Homo sapiens: one gene and its partners. Each later gene encodes a partner of the first gene's protein in a complex. Each region holds a gene or a part of one and is shown in the gene's direction. Other genes may lie near its edges. The genes, in order: LSM7, PRPF3 and SNRPD1.

Region 1 (2,437 bases):
TTCAGCCTCCCACAGTGCTGGGGTTCCAGGCGTGAGCTGTGGCGCCCAGCGGAGAGCAGCCTTGCTGTGGGGTAGTGAGCGTGCCGTGGGGCTCCTCTCGGGCGCCTTTCCTCTTCTGCCCTTGTTAATTCCCGCTATGAACGCAGGGTCCCTGTCTCCTCCCCAGAGGACCCTCCCTCATTTCCCTGCCCCCGCTCGCTCCCCTCCCCAGTGAGGCCGCCAAGTCCTCAGACTCTCCCCCAGAAGCTCCTGCGGCAAGTCCCCAGCTGGCAAGTCCCCATCCCGGCCCGGGCACTGGGGGAATGTCAGGACTTAGGAGAGAGAGGGTCTTGCCCCTTGGATCCATTGATACTGAGACAAGATTTATTCTTGTAGCTGGCCATGGTGGCTCATGCCTGTAATCCCAGCACTTTGGGAGGCCAAGACAGGAGGATCACTCGAGCCCAGGAATTTGAGACCAGCCTGGGCAACATAGTGAGACCCTGTCTCTACAAAAAAAAAAAAAATGTAATTAGCCAGGCATGGCGGTACATGTGCCTGTGGCCCCAGCTACTCAGGAGGCTAAGGCAGGAGGATTGTTTGAGCCCAGGAGGTTGAGGCTGTGAGCTGTGATTGCACTGCTGCACTCCAACCTGAGCAACAGAGCAAGACCTGGTGTCTGAAAAAAAGTTTAAAAACCTGGGCCCCATGGTTCTCCCATGCCCCCACCACTGCAGGACCACAGTAGTGAGGAGTTTTAATCGCCTTCAGCCTCTTGAGAGCTTGTCTTGGGCTTGCTGGCACTTCCCTGGGGTGCCAGCCCACATGGTCCCCACCCCACATGAACAGCCTCTTTATTTTTTTATTTTTTGAGATGGAATCTCGCTCTGTCACCCAGGCTGGAGTGCAGTGGCGCGATCTCGGCTCACTGCAAGCTCCGCCTCCTGGGTTCACACCATTCTCCTGCCTCAGCCTCCCGAGTAGCTGGGACTCCAAGTGCCTGCCACCACGCCCGGCTAATTTTTTTGTATTTTTTAGTAGAGACGGGGTTTCACCAAGTTAGCCAGGATGGTCTCGATCTCCTGACCTCGTGATCCGCCTGCCTTGGCCTCCCAAAGTGCTGGGATTACAGGCGTGAGCCACCGCGCCCGGCCCCCAGCCTCTTTGTTATAGGGTGAATATTGGCCCCCTAGGGCTCCAGGGACCTTGCAGAGACCAGGAGGCCCAGGGTGCCTGTATTCTGGCCGGCCATCTGATAACCTGGTTCCCGGCCCTGGTGCCTGGGCCCCAGTGAGCTCTGAGACGCGGGGTAGCCGGCTATCACCTGGGCCTTCTTGTTCCCATGGTTTGTGGAGTGAGGGAGGGCTGTGGCTGCTGTCTGTGGAGCTGCCACTGGTCTCTAGGGGCCATGGGTCTCAGCCGTGGGAGCCGGGGACCTGCCCCACAGAGCGCATCCCGTCTGAGGTCCCTGCGTGCTCGTGGCGCCTGCAGGGTGCAGGTGGGGAGGTCGGAGCGAGGGTCTTGGGTGGGTGGGGGGTCTCGGAGGCTTCCTGGAGGTCCCTCAGTCCTCTCTATCTGCTCCTCCCCAGACCCTGACGACCAGTACAAGCTCACGGAGGACACCCGGCAGCTGGGCCTCGTGGTGTGCCGGGGCACGTCCGTGGTGCTAATCTGCCCGCAGGACGGCATGGAGGCCATCCCCAACCCCTTCATCCAGCAGCAGGACGCCTAGCCTGGCCGGGGGCGCGGGGGGTGCAGGGCAGGCCCGAGCAGCTCGGTTTCCCGCGGACTTGGCTGCTGCTCCCACCGCAGTACCGCCTCCTGGAACGGAAGCATTTTCCTTTTTGTATAGGTTGAATTTTTGTTTTCTTAATAAAATTGCAAACCTCAATGTGTCTGAGCCCCGAATCTTGCTTTTCCCTTGACCTTCTGAGGAAACCTGGATTCCTGGAGATTGGACTCAGTCCCTGGAGCTCATCAAATACCAGCCATGGTCCCTCCTGGGGGTGAGGGTTCAGGAGTGACCAAGGCGGGCACAGCCAAGGCCGAGACAGGCGAGTTTGGAACCTCAGTCTGATGAGGGGCTTGTGGAACCCCAGGCCCGCCCCCAAGACAGCAGGAGCTGGGGTGCATCAGGAGCCGGGATGCATCAGGAGGCTGGGGTATATCAGGAGGCCGGGGTGCATCAGGAGGCCGGGGTGCGTCAGGAGCCGGGGTGCATTAGGAGGCTGGGGTGCATTAGGAGGCTGGGTGTGTCAGGAGCTGGGTGTGTCAGGACCTGGGGTGAATCAGGAGCCGGGGTGCATCAGGAGGCTGGGGTGCATCAGGAGCCGGGGTGCATCAAGAGGCCAGACCCCACAGCCCATGCAGCTAACACCTGCCCCCGCTGCTGCCCCCGCTTGTGAGATGGACTGGTCACCTACAGCCAGCCCCTTCTGGGTTCCTTCCGTGCTCACAG
Region 2 (3,654 bases), on another chromosome or scaffold:
GGAAGGTGGAGTTAAAAGACCAAACGAAACCTACACCACTGATCCTGGATGAGCAAGGGCGCACTGTAGATGCAACAGGCAAGGAGATTGAGCTGACACACCGCATGCCTACTCTGAAAGCCAATATTCGTGCTGTGAAGAGGGAACAATTCAAGCAACAACTAAAGGAAAAGCCATCAGAAGACATGGAATCCAATACCTTTTTTGACCCCCGAGTCTCCATTGCCCCTTCCCAGCGCCAGAGACGCACTTTTAAATTCCATGACAAGGGCAAATTTGAGAAGATTGCTCAGCGATTACGGACAAAGGTATCTGGCTTAGAGTATAACACAGAATTTGGAAAAAGTTAAGAAGCTGACAAGAAAACATTGTTAAATCTCTGTGTTCTAGGAAATTAGATAAATAGGTCATTTAAAGCAGCAGTCCTCAACCTTTTTGGCACCAGGGACTTGTTTCATGGAAGATAATTTTTCCCCTGGAGTAAGGATGGTTTCGTGATGGTTCAAGCACATAGCATTTATTGTGTACTTTATTATTATTATTTTTTTCGAGATGGAGTGTCGCTCTTGTTGCCCAGGCTGGAGTGCAATGGGGCGATCTCGGCTTGCTGCAACCTTTGCCTCCCAGGTTCAAGTGATTCTCCTGCCTCAGCCTCCCGAGTAGCTGGGATCACAGGCATGTGCCACCACGCCTGGCTAATTTTGTATTTTTGGTGGAGACGGGGTTTCTCCGTGTTGGTCAGGCTGGTCTCGAACTCCTGACCTCAGGTGATCTGCCCACTTTGTCCTCCCAAAGTGCTGGGATTACAGGCGTGAGCCACCGCCCCCGCCTTTTTTTTTTTTGGGCGGGGAGGGGGATGGAGTCTTGCACTGTTACCTGGGCTGGAGTGCAGTGGTACAGTCTCAGCTCACTGCAACCTCTGCCTCCTGGGTTCAAGCAATTCTCCTGCCTCAGCCTCCTGAGTAGCTGGGACTGCAGGCATGCGCCGCCATGCCTGACGAATTTTTTGTATTTTTAGTAGAGACAGGGTTTCACTATGTTGGCCCGGCTGGTCTTAAACTCCTGACCTTGTGATCTGCCTGCCTTGACCTCCCAAAGTGCTGGGATTATAGGCGTGAGCCACTGTGCTGGCCTATTTCTATTATTATTTTATTGTAATATATGATGAAATAATTATATAACTCACCATAATATAAAATCACTGGGAGCCTTGAGCTTGTTTTCCTGCTGAAATGGTCCCATTTGGGTGTGATGGGAGACAGTGACAGATCATCAGGCATTAGATTCTCATAAGGAATGTGCAACATAGCCCCCTCACATGTACAGTTCACAATAGGGTTCGCGCTCCTCTGAGAATCTCATGCCACCGATGATCTGACAGGAGGTGGAGCTCAGGCCATAATGCAGGTAATAGGGAGCAATCGTAAGTACAGATGAGACTGTTGGCTTGCCTGCTGCTCACCTCCTGTTGTGCAGCCCAGTTCCTAAAAGACTGTTGGGTTGGGGACCCCTGATTTAAAGCAATGAATACTTTGAAAAATGTGCTGGACAAGATGGCTCAAGCCTGTAATCCCAGCGCTTTGGGAGGCCGAGGTGGGTGGATCACGAGGTCAGGAGTTCAAGACCAGCCTGCCCAACATGGTGAAACCCCGTCTCTACTAAAAGTACAAAAATTAACCGAGCGTGGTGGTGGGTGCCTGTAATCCTAGCTACTTGGGAGGCTGAGTCAGGAGAATCACTTGAAACTGGAAGGCAGAGGTTGCAGTGAGCTGAGATCGCACCACTGCACTCCAGCATGGGCAAAAGAGCGAAACTCCGTCTCAAAAAATATATATATATATTTATTAATATAATACATAATTTTTTTAGCAGATTTTACTTCCTAATTCGTTTCTACATAAGTGGAAATATTATGAAATTGAGTTTGAAAATTCTCCACATACAACTAAGTGGAGGGAAACAATTTGAAACATTCTGAGTGACTAAGGAAGGCTTGCCTGTAGTTAAAATTTAATGAGACAGTACACCTGGAGAGTTGAATTGATTGTATATTGAATGACCTTTGCCGCCTTTTTATCCTCTCAAAGTGAGGTTTTCATAAAATTCCTTTTTTTTTTTTTTTTGAGACGGAGTCTCGCTCTGTCACCCAGGCTGCAGTGCAGTGGCACGATCTCAGCTCACTGAAAGCTCCGCCTTCCAGGTTCATGCCATTCTCCTGCCTCAGCCTGCTGAGTAGCTGGGACTATAGGCGCCCGCCACCACGCCCGGCTAATTTTTTTGTATTTTTAGTAGAGACGGGGTTTCACCGTGTTAGCCAGGATGGTCTCGATCTCCTGACCTCATGATCCTCCCGCCTCGGCCTCTCAAAGTGCTGGGATTACAGGCGTGAGCCACCACACCCGGCCATAAAATTCTATTTCTGCGTATTTACTGCAGGCATATACTGTGGAGTGCAGGGAGGGGTTGAAGGTGAGATCTATGTATATGAACTAAATAAAGGATAAAATAAAGCAGAACAACTCCTTTCTAAGCTTTCAGAAATTATGAACTTGTTGCGTTAGGTGTAAAGAGTTCAACGGGGAAGTGTTTTAAAATTTGGGATTCTTGGCCGAGGTGGGCGAATCACTAGGTCAGGAGATCGAGACCATCCTGGCTAACATGGTGAAACCACTTCTCTACTAAAAATACAAAAAAATGAGCCGGGCGTGGTGATGGGCGCCTGTAGTCCCAGCTACTCGGGAGGCTGAGTCAGGAGAATGGCGTGAACCCGGGAGGTGGAGCTTACACTGCACTGCACTGCAGCCTGGGTGACAGAGTGAGACTCCGTCTACAAAAAAAAAAAAAAATATTTGGGATTCTGGCCGGGCACAGTGGCTCATGCCTGTAATCCCATCACTTTGGGAGGCCGAGGCGGGCAGATCACCTGAGGTCGGGAGTTTGAGACCAGGCTGAGCAACGTGGAGAAACCCCATCTCTACTAAAAATACAAAATTAGCTGAGGGTGGTGGCACATGCCTGTAATCCCAGCTACTGAGGAGGCTTAGGCAGGAGAATCGCTTAAACCTGGAAGGTAGAGGTTGCTGTTAGCCAAGACCATGCCATTGCACTCCAGCCTGGGCAAGAAGAACGAAACTCCGTCTCAAAAAAAAAAAAAAATTGAGATTCTACACATTCTGTTTTCTATGACTCCAATTTATCTTTCTGTCTTGGATTATCTTGTTTTTAGGCTCAACTGGAGAAGCTACAGGCAGAGATTTCACAAGCAGCTCGAAAAACAGGCATCCATACTTCGACTAGGCTTGCCCTCATTGCTCCTAAGAAGGAGCTAAAGGAAGGAGATATTCCTGAAATTGAGTGGTGGGACTCTTACATAATCCCCAATGGCTTTGATCTGTGAGTTTGTTTTAGTACCTTTTTAAAAAAACAGTTTTTAATCAGCTGAGTTTAAGACTCAAGTTAATACCTTTTAGTAAAGCTATGGTTTTAGTGGGAAGGATGGTACTCATTCATTAATTAAAATTTTTAAATCCAAGAGAGATAAGTAACTGTACACAAGGTCCTGTTATTTTTTTTTTTTTTTTTTTTGAGAGGGAGTCTCGCTCTGTCACCCAGGCTGGAGTGCAGTGGCACGATCTCAGCTCACTGCAACCTCCA
Region 3 (3,654 bases), on another chromosome or scaffold:
TTAGTTACATGTTTTTGAGATTCATCCACATTGTGAAGTGTATCAGTAATGTGTTCATTTTTATTACTGGATATTAGTGCATTGTGTGTTTGGAAGTTCTGTATTTTAGGCCGGGCGCAGTGGCTCACGTCTGTAATCCCAGCACTTTGGGAGGCCGAGGCGGGTAGATCACCTGAGGTCAGGAGTTTGAAACCAGCCTGACCAACATGGTGAAACCCCATCTCTACTAAAAATACCAAAAAAGTAGCTGGGCATGGTGGCAGGTGCCTGTAATCCCAGCTACAAGGGAGGCTGAGGCAGGAGAATCCCTTGAACCCAGGAGGTGGAGATTGCAGTGAGCTGAGATCACGCCATTGCACTCCAGCTTGGGCAACAGAGCGAGACTCCGTCTCAAAAAAAAAGAAAAAAGAAAAAAAAAGCTCCGTATTTTAAAAAATTACAAGAAAATAAAATAAAAAGTTATGTATTTTGTTTACAACTACGTTGAATATTCTTCAGGTTTTTGGAGGGAAACAAATTTTCGTGGGTAAATACTCGAGTGGAGTTGATGGACTGTAACATAGTTATGTGTTTAGCTTTTTAAGAAATTTCCAGACCATTTTCCAAAGTGGTTGTACCATTTTACACTTCCATTAACAATATATTAGAATAACAATTGGTCCACATCCTCACCAGTATGTGGTGTTGTTTGCTCAGTCTTTAATTTTAGCCATTTTAGTGGGTATGTAGTGGTATCTCCTTAGGGTTTAGTCGGTTTTTTGCTTATTTGTTTGTTTTTGAGGCGGAGTCTCACTCTGTCACCCAGGCTGGAGTGCAGTGGCATGATCTTGGTTCACTGCAAGCTCCGCCTCCTGGGTTCACGCCATTCTCCTGCCTCAGCCTCCCGAGTAGCTGGGACTACAGGCGCCTGCCACCACGCCCGGCTAATTTTTTGTATTTTTAGTAGAGACGGGATTTCACCGTGTTAGCCAGGATGTTCTCAATCTCCTGACCTCGTGATCCGCCCGCCTTGGCCTCCCAAAGTGCTGGGATTACTGGCGTGAGCCACTGCGCCCAGCCCAGAGTTGTAGAAATTAGATCTGTGTCCTGGATACCAGTTCTTTGTCAGATGTGTTTTCTCTCAGTGTGTGGTTTACATGTTCATTTCCTTAATAGTGTCTCTCTTCTTGTAGCTCAGGCTGGAGTACAATTGTGCGATCTCAGCTCACTGCAACCTCTGCCTTCCAGGTTCAAGCGATTCTCCTACCTCAGCCTCCCAAGTAGCTGGGATTACAGGCGCCTGCCACCACGCCTGGCTAATTTTTGTATTTTTAGTAGAGACAGGGTTTCACCATGTTGGTCAGGCTGGTCTCGAACTCCTGACCTTGTGATCCACCCGCCTTGGCCTCCCAAAGTACTGGGATTACAGGCGTGAGCCACCATGCCTGACTGATCGATTTTTATGTATCTGGAACTCTTTAAGTCTTTTTTTTTTTTTTTGAGATGGAGTCTTGCTCTGTTGCCAGACTGGAGTGCAGTGGCGCACTCTCGGCTCACTGCGACCTCCACCTCCCAGGTTCAAGTGATTCCCCTGCCTCAGCCTCCCGAGTAGCTGGGACTACAGGCATGTGCCACTATGCCTGGCTTATTTTTTTTGTATTTTAGTAGAGATGGGATTTCACCACTTTGGCCAGGCTGGTCTCGATCTCCTGACCTTGTGATCTGCCTGCCTTGGCCTCCCAAAGTGCTGGGATTACAGGCGTGAGCCACTGTGCCCAGCCTATATCTGGAACTCTTGGGCTCAAGTGACTATCATCCATCTTGGATTACTTTTGGAAAATGGTGTTAGTGGTCCAGGTTCGTTTTTTTTCTGTATGGATTTCCAGTTATTCCAGCATCATTTGTTGAAAACACTTTCCTTTGCCTGTTACACGTCTTTGGCACCTTTGTAAAAAATCAACCATATAAGGCCAGGCTTGGTGGCTCATGCCTGTAATCCCAGCACTTTTCGGAATCCAAGGCAGGCAGATCACCTGAGGTCAGGAGTTCGAGACCAGCCTGACCAACATGGTGAAACCCCGGCTCTACTAAAACAAAAAGAAATACAAAAATTAGCTGGTTGTGGTGGCGAGTGCCTGTAATCCCAGCTAAATCAACCATGTAAATGTGGGACCAGAAATAGATCTGTTTGCTTGTATTGTTTCATTGATCTATTTGTTGTTCCTTATGTCTCGATTACTGTAGTTTTAACTTGTATATGTACTGCTCTAGTCACATAATTTGTCTTCCTAGAGATTATACTTTGGTCTCTTGTCTTTCTAAAATCTGTTTCTGAACATTGGCCCTAGGTTCTCTTTTAAATGTGAATATGAGCCTGGTACTCCACTTCATTGATGAAAATCCTTCAGTAGCTCTCCTAGAGGAATTCTTTAACAGAGCTTAGGCTTTCCATGAAAGGAACCTGCCTAACTCCTCTCTACTCATAGGACCTAAAATATTGAACTTAACATTTCATCGGCCAGGCGTGGTGGTTCATGCTTGTCATCGTAGCACTTTGTGAGGCCGAGGCAGGCAGATCACTTGGGCCAACATGGTAAAACCCCGTCTCTACTAAAAATACAAAAATTAGCTGGGTGTGGTGGCATGCGCCTGTAGTCTCAGCTACTTGGGAGGCTGAGGCACAAGAATCTCTTGAACCCGGGAGACGGAGGTTGCAATGAGCTCAGATTGAGATTGCGCTATTGCACTCCAGCCTGGGCAACAGAACAAGACTCCATCTTTGTATCTATAATTACTCTGTGTCTTATGCTGTATTTTTTCTTTTGTTTCTTCTTGCTGCATATTTCCAACTTTTCAGGCTTCTTACTAGGAGTCCCCTAATACCTGACTCCCCTCTCCACATGCTACAATATATTCTTAGTAAAAAACCTGTGTGTAGCTGGGTGCAGTGGCTCACGCTTGTAATCCCAGCACTTTGGGAGGCCAAGGCAGGCTGATTGCTTGAGCTCAGGAGTTTAAGACTAGTCTAGGCAACATGGCAAAACCACATCTCTACAAAAAATTTAAAAATTTAAAAAATATTAGCCGGGCATGGTGGCATAGTCTCAGAAAAAACCTAAACTAAAAACCTCTGTTTAAAAAAAAACACAAAAAAAACCTCTGTATATCTTTATTGCTTTCTACAACTTAGTTATTTTTACGTATCTTTTATGTATCTGAGCCACCGCGCCTGGCCACATAAGGTTTTTTTTTTCCTTTTATTTATCTTCTTTGCTTCCAAAAATGATTTGAAGAACTTTTATAGTAAAAGTTCTTACTAACTGGGATAGTAAATTCGTGTAAAAGATAAAAACAAAAACTTGATAATGGGAGGAAACCATTAGTTCAGAATTCTAGGCTTTTCTAGTTATAATTGATTGTTAAATTTGGAGCTGAATAACTCTCTGGTGAAATAAAGTGTTACCAATTCGTTGAGAAAAACGTTTTCTTGATGTCATATATAAAAAGAGATTCAACTCATGAGTCTTCTTAAAGTTTGAGGCTTGTTATATCCCAGACCAAGTAATTTCTTTTTTGTGATGGCTGTCTATACCACTAAAAAAAAAGAAATTAAAAAAAGGCATTTTAAGGTTGGTTTCCCTTTATTCATTAAAACATTTCAGCCAACATTATTCA

Evidence for each region.
Region 2: LSM7 (region 1) and PRPF3 share a complex: the UniProt entries of both Homo sapiens proteins name them as parts of the precatalytic spliceosome.
Region 3: LSM7 (region 1) and SNRPD1 share a complex: the UniProt entries of both Homo sapiens proteins name them as parts of the U4/U6-U5 tri-snRNP complex.

Annotation. Positions count from the first base shown.
Region 1 is NC_000019.10:2,320,954-2,323,390, reverse strand, and holds the end of LSM7 (U6 snRNA-associated Sm-like protein LSm7), read left to right. Parts: intron 1-1,568; coding exon 1,569-1,711; 3' UTR 1,712-1,870; downstream 1,871-2,437. UniProt on the Homo sapiens protein: Plays a role in pre-mRNA splicing as component of the U4/U6-U5 tri-snRNP complex that is involved in spliceosome assembly, and as component of the precatalytic spliceosome (spliceosome B complex).
Region 2 is NC_000001.11:150,334,934-150,338,587, forward strand, and holds part of PRPF3 (U4/U6 small nuclear ribonucleoprotein Prp3), read left to right. Parts: intron 1-1; coding exon 2-308; intron 309-3,226; coding exon 3,227-3,393; intron 3,394-3,654. UniProt on the Homo sapiens protein: Plays a role in pre-mRNA splicing as component of the U4/U6-U5 tri-snRNP complex that is involved in spliceosome assembly, and as component of the precatalytic spliceosome (spliceosome B complex).
Region 3 is NC_000018.10:21,615,226-21,618,879, forward strand, and holds part of SNRPD1 (small nuclear ribonucleoprotein Sm D1), read left to right. Parts: intron 1-3,654. UniProt on the Homo sapiens protein: Plays a role in pre-mRNA splicing as a core component of the spliceosomal U1, U2, U4 and U5 small nuclear ribonucleoproteins (snRNPs), the building blocks of the spliceosome.